Linked DNA regions of Homo sapiens: region 2 is linked to region 1. Evidence: fine-mapped expression QTL. A gene starts in region 1. The other region holds a variant in brackets. All regions are shown on one strand. Distances are between the middles of the regions.

Region 1 (2,902 bases):
CCGCGGCTCCGCGCGCAGATGGGGCGGCATGGCCTGGGCAGCGGGCTGGGGGCACGACCGCGGGCTCAGCCCCCGCCCAAAGCTCCATAAACAACCGTGCGGCTGTGGAGATACAAGGAGAAAAGTCAGGACCCTGGAGGGCGCGCGGGGGGAGTTGGGGGTCGCCTGCAGAACCCAGAGAGAGCCCCGGGAACACAATCTATCCGGGACCCAGCGCCACCGGACATCTCACCTATGGGGACGGCGAGGCTCGGCGAGGGCATGCCCCGGCTGCCTCGGTCGCCAGCGCGGTTTCGGGTGTGCTTCCCCGCCCCCCACCTCGCCCCAGGCTGCGATGCGCTTTATGAGGTCCCTTCAAATCCCAATCCTAATACTCGTCTCGCGGACCGGCGAGAAGCGAGGTCCAAGTCCTTGGCTCCTAAGTATGCTGTGTGCGGGGCGCGGCTGACTCAGCTCTCCCGGGCTGAGGACACCCCAGCCACCGTCTCCGGGTCTCCCCAGCCTGAGCAAACATTGGCTATCCAGGGCAACCCGGCAGCCCTCGCCCTGGGCTTCAGGGTCTCCCTGCTCCACCCTCTCGGGGCATCAGAGACCGACCGGCTCGGAGGGAACCTAAGCGGGACCTGCCTTGCCCGAGCCGCTGCCAGCGCCCGGATCTGGGAGGGCGCCCGCGTGCCCGCCGTTTACCTTCCTGACCCTAGCCTTGGGGCTGTGTCTCTCGGCCTACGAAGGCCTGGGCGGGCAGCGGGGCCGCAGCCGAAGCATTTTTCAGGGCTAGCCTTGTCGCCTATCCCTAGACAAGTGTTTTGTGAGTGTGGGCGCACCGAGGTTCTACACGTTCTCTTTACCGGAACCAGTACTTGCTGCCCCCCTGCCGTCGTCCCCTATGGGGGGGTGTCTGTGAGTGTGTGTGTATACACGCGTGTGTGTATACGCCGCACGCGCGCGGAGCGAGTCCGCTCTCAGCGCGCCCTGTTGCCGAGGACGCGACTGCCCCTGCGGGCTCCCGGACCCGCGCCCACTCGGAGGAACTTAGGGGCGTGCATGGCTGCAGCCGGGCAGCAGCCCTAGGTGCACAGAGCCTCTAGCTCTGCAAACCTCCCAGGAGCCGGCGCTCTAACACCCCAGGGCAGCGCCGCGGAGCGCAGGGCTTCTCCGCATCCCGGGCAGCCTCGCCCGGCGCCAGCAGAGCCGCCCCGAGACCCCAGCCTGGGGACTCCTGGAGCGCGCTGAGGGAGGCGGCGCGGAGTGAGCGGCCCGGAAGGCGGGTAGGAGAAATGCGGAGACCTCGTCTCTCCCTATTTTCTCCCCACCGCCACTCCATGTCACCCTCCAAAATCAAACCCCCTTCCCTGCCTCCCCAGCCCACCCCTTTGCCCTGTTTCGGAACCAGGAACGCCGAGATTCGCTCCAGAGCAGAAAGTGAGGGAAAAGAGGGTTGTTCAGAGGCGAGAGCCATTAAAAGGCCGCCAAACTTACCTGCAGTTTCTCAGATTCTCAGGTCCTGTGTAGACTACATGCCCAGAGGCGCAAACCTCGTAGGGACGAGATGGCTTTAAAAGTAAAAATGCTCAGAAATTATTTTCTCACAAGCTATGGAAGACAAAAAAGAGGAGTGCGAAAGAGGGGGGAAAGCTCTTCGGTTCAGGGGCCCGGCGATCCCGGCAGTGGCGACGCCAAGCCGGCCCTGCACGCCCTTTTCGACCGTGGAGATACTGCCCCTGTCAGTGTCTGCTCCGGGCTACTTCAGTGTTTGTTCAATGCACGATTAAAAAAAAAAAAAAGAAAGAAAGAAAAGTTGTTGGGGGGGGGGGTAGTGGAGGAGGGAGGAGGGAGAAAGGCGGAGGCTTGGGGGAGGAAAGCAGGAAGGAAGTTGTGAGCCTGTCTGGGGTTGAACTCAGCGGAACAAGTTTTTCTTTTCTTCTTTTTTTTTTTTTTCTATTGCTTGGCAAGACGAGGGAGGGAAACACTTAAAAAAAAGTTTCCATTGTTAGCTAACAACAACAAAAAAGGCTTTTAACTTCTGCGGTTTAAAGATATACAATTCATTTTCCACCCCTCAATCGAGGCTTGCTGATGTGTCTAGCTTTATGAAACTATTTTTGAAAAATGTTTTTAATAAAGTTTTGAGTGTATGTCTTAAACAAAGCAAATCATGGGGACCTTTTTAGCATTTAAAAAAGGCTACAATCCTGTATAAACAGTTTGTGTTCTTGTACACAGTTCTGCAAATTCAAAGAAGGTACATTGAGGTCACCTTCCTGCAGAGTTGCAGGTTTTAAGTGCATCACAGTAGTATTTTGGAAGACTGGTTGGTCTATGAGCTGGGGATGGTTTTGCAGTGCAATTGGTAGATATATAAATACACCTTTACATGTCACATTTATTTATAAATGCACACGGCACATGTGACATTCGCATATTTTTGCACTTAATTCTCAGAATTATTTTAAGAAAAAGCATAGTCCTGAAACTAAGAAGGCTTGGGTAACGTCTGAAACCCCTCTTGCTCCTGTAGACCCTTGTAGACTGTCTCCTGTAGACTGGATCATTTTCAAGAAACTTTCTCCCCTACTATCAGCAAAAAAGGGAGAAAGAACATCAGCCAACATTACTGGGCAGGGGATCCTACCCCTTCTAAGCCCTGGCACTGCCAGTGTGTTTTACATAATTCTCTAAATCTTAAACTACAGCATTTAGTGAAAGGAGGGAAAACACAGCTGCACGGCTCAGGAGACTGAAACATCCAAAGCCTGAATTGGTCCTTATATCATGATTAGCTGAAATTCAGATGGAAATTTTGACTTTACTTGTAGCACACAGATCTCTTGCTTGTTTATGTAACAATACTGTTAAGTGAGCAAAGCAACCTGCTGCTCCATCAGGAAGAGGCTCATGCTAA
Region 2 (2,902 bases), 110 kb before region 1:
GTTCAAAACAAAGGCAAAGCTTTCAAGGAGAAACAAGAGTCCAGCCTTTCGGTCTTAGTGTTCTGTGCAATTTTAAAACCCAACAAAATAAATATAACTTAAAAATGTCTTACATGACACTAAAGGCAAGCCTGGGAAAAGCAAGCAGTTGAAGAAACCTTCCGAGAATGCTAAGCAGTGCTGAATGCCAGGAACTCGTGGGGCCCCCCGCAGGACAGGGCAAGAGGACCCTGCGCCCATTCACCTGGGCACAGGTACACAGAGTTTGTCCTGCCTGCTGGCACATGCACTGCCAGGACCCAAGGAGTCCCTGTGGTGACGAGGGCTGGGCAGGCACGGTCTTCCAGGCTGCCAGGGCAGGGGTTCTGGGAGATTCCATTTCACAATCCATCTATCCCACTGAGACAAAGGGAAGGGCCAGATGGCAGGGAAGCGAGTGGCAAAATGGCTTGAGAGACAGAGTAGGTGTAGAAGAGAACTAGCACGGTAAATACAAAAAAAGAGAAAAAAAAAACAGAAAACAAAAACCCTAAGTAACAGAATAACCCTAAAATGATGCTACTTCATACTATGTTCACATATTTAATGTAACCCACAGCCAAGTATTGCCAATAAGAGGCCCCATGGGCCTCCTTTAATAAGCACATCATTTGCATATTAGCACATTGTTTGCAAACAGCTGGTGTCTGCCTAAAGTGCTTGGAACATTTTGTTCTCTTAAACAGGTCCCCTGTAATTTTTGTTCATATCATGATTTGCTTTAGCAAACTTCTTTCACAGATGGAGTAAGGATAACTTTTGGCCAGTCCATATTCATAGAATCTTTACGTCTGAATTAATGATGCCCCTGCCCTGCAAATGGCTGAAGCACAGACCACCAGGGTCCCTTCTAGCCCAAAAGTCACTATAGCTCCAGAGGCCCAGAGTTGACTTTGGCTCCCCAACGCCCCCGTCCTGCCTGCCTTCCAGATCACATGCTGCCACGAGGTCTCTCGTGCTCCACCGGGCGCGTGTGTGACCTTTAGCAAGTCGGCCCACACAGGAGCTCACCACTGTTTTAAACAAGAGCCAGGAAGTGTAAGTTGATTTCCTTTTTTAAAATCTGTACTTATACATCCTCATGTGTCCCACCCTCCACCCCCAGCAAGTGTCACTCACACTTCCAGCACAAAAGGGGAAATGTACATGTCCCGTGGGCAGGTTGACAGTTCCCCAGAGACCCCGGGGTGGTGGGGTGGGCAGTGGTTCCTCCAGACACACACACCTTGGTCCATAGTCTCCCTCTGTGTCCCTAGCTCCTGGACTCTCCCAGCTCCTGTACCTCTGACAGCAAAGGAGTGGGTGGCAAGCCCCAAGGAGCATGGGGCACAGAGCTGGGGGTTTTGTTCTTAAGAAGTCAGGCAAATTTTACATTCCCTTCCATATCAGACTCACTGGCTTTCAGTTAAAATTGGGCTTAAATAGGTTCTCCACGAATCTCCAAATGCAGAGACTTCAGGAAGAGGTGCCTGGAGCACGCCCTGGCATCCACCACATACCCTACAAGATACCCACACTACATTGGAGAAGCAGGAATCTAAGCCCTCCAGGC[A/G]GTAAGGCTTGTTTCAGAGGCAATAACAAATGATGCCAGGAGGCCACCGCGGCACCTCTGGAAGCCAGAAGCCTGCCTTCTTCCTGCCTGGCGCAGACCTGAGCTCCTCCCCTATTTCTATATCTGCAAGGGACTCTGGGCCCCATGACAGGAGCCCATGTATGCAGGCAGGGTTGACCAACTAGCACCAGGTAGGTGAGGGTCAAGAAAAATGTGCTCCTCCCTGGGGCCAGGGCCCAGAGACTCTATAGATCCCATCTTCCCCTGGTAGCACCCTTGGAGCTCAGCATGGCAGAGTGTGCCTTCTGAACTCATGGGTTGCAATTCCAAGTGGCACAGCTTCTGCTCGCCTCCTCTGGGAAGGCCTAGATCAGAGAACACAGCCAAGCTGGCTTCAGCCTTCTCTTGGCTCCTGGGTCTGGCCTGGAGCCGGCAGGTTTCCATACCAGATGGGTGGGGGGCCTTGCCTGAGCAGCCCTGGAGAGGCCACCAGGGCATCCCTGAGGCTGCTAATCGGAAGACACTTTGCTCACAGTCAACATGTGGTTCCCCGATGGTTTTGTGCCCCAACTACCAGAAAGCCCTGCTCCCAGCCAGGGACCAGGAACCCGGCCGGCCCCCTGGGCTCTCCGGTGGGGAGGCCCCGGCAGAAATAAGGCTGTGCTTGGCAGCACTCTAACAGCACTGGCCGCCAGGGGGCAGCAGGCCTCCGCAGGTGGTAGGTCCAGGCTGGTGCTTCCTAGGGGGCTCCCAGAGGCAGGGCTCATCTGGTAGGGTCCCCTCAGCAGCCAGGGACCCCCTCCAGCTCTACACCTGACCCACCTCTAAGACTGGGCATTTCTCTTCTAGTAGGTGACCCTCTCTACAAAAAGCAGTGCAAACACCACCTCCAAGCCCTGAAGTTAGGAAAATGACTAGAAACTCTCATCTCCTCTTCTACAAAGTGTCTTGTAGTGCAGTTCAGGAGGGTCAGTCAGGTGTAAGTGAAGGAAAAGTTAGGAACGAGAAAGGAAGCACAGGAGGAGGAAAGGAGGCCCAGGCGGGGGCCAGGGAGGGCGTGGGCAGCTCAGGCGAGTGGGGCATCCTGGGACATCTCGGTCAGGATGTCGACGAGGTTATTGAGCCCCGAGAGGTAGCCATCCTCCCGGTTCCCCTCCTGCCAGGGGACGTCATGCTGCAGGGTCTGGCCCTCAGGCAGGGGCGTGGTTTTCCCAAAGTCGATCATCCACACTTTGGCCTGTTCCTTCTTGTCGTGGATGAAGAGGAGGGAGCTGCCAATGACCTGAGGAGAACATGGGGGTGAAGGGTGAG

What was found.
Region 2: its variant is fine-mapped to the expression of ITPKB in whole blood (TOPMed, PIP 0.99).

The regions. Positions count from the first base shown.
Region 1 is chr1:226,737,562-226,740,463 of GRCh38, forward strand. ITPKB (inositol-trisphosphate 3-kinase B) reads right to left here and starts at 1,721. Exons shown (of 8, transcript NM_002221.4): 1 at 1,480-1,721; 2 at 1-102. RefSeq lists silencers at 1-47, 1,018-1,257 and enhancers at 355-854, 1,478-1,727.
Region 2 is chr1:226,632,014-226,634,915 of GRCh38, forward strand. ITPKB (inositol-trisphosphate 3-kinase B) reads right to left here. Exons shown (of 8, transcript NM_002221.4): 8 at 1-2,873. The coding sequence ends at 2,658. Among named protein-coding and RNA genes, the nearest start is that of ITPKB-IT1, 42 kb to the right of the region's middle. RefSeq lists an enhancer at 895-1,044. The variant A/G (reference allele first, on the strand shown) is at 1,592.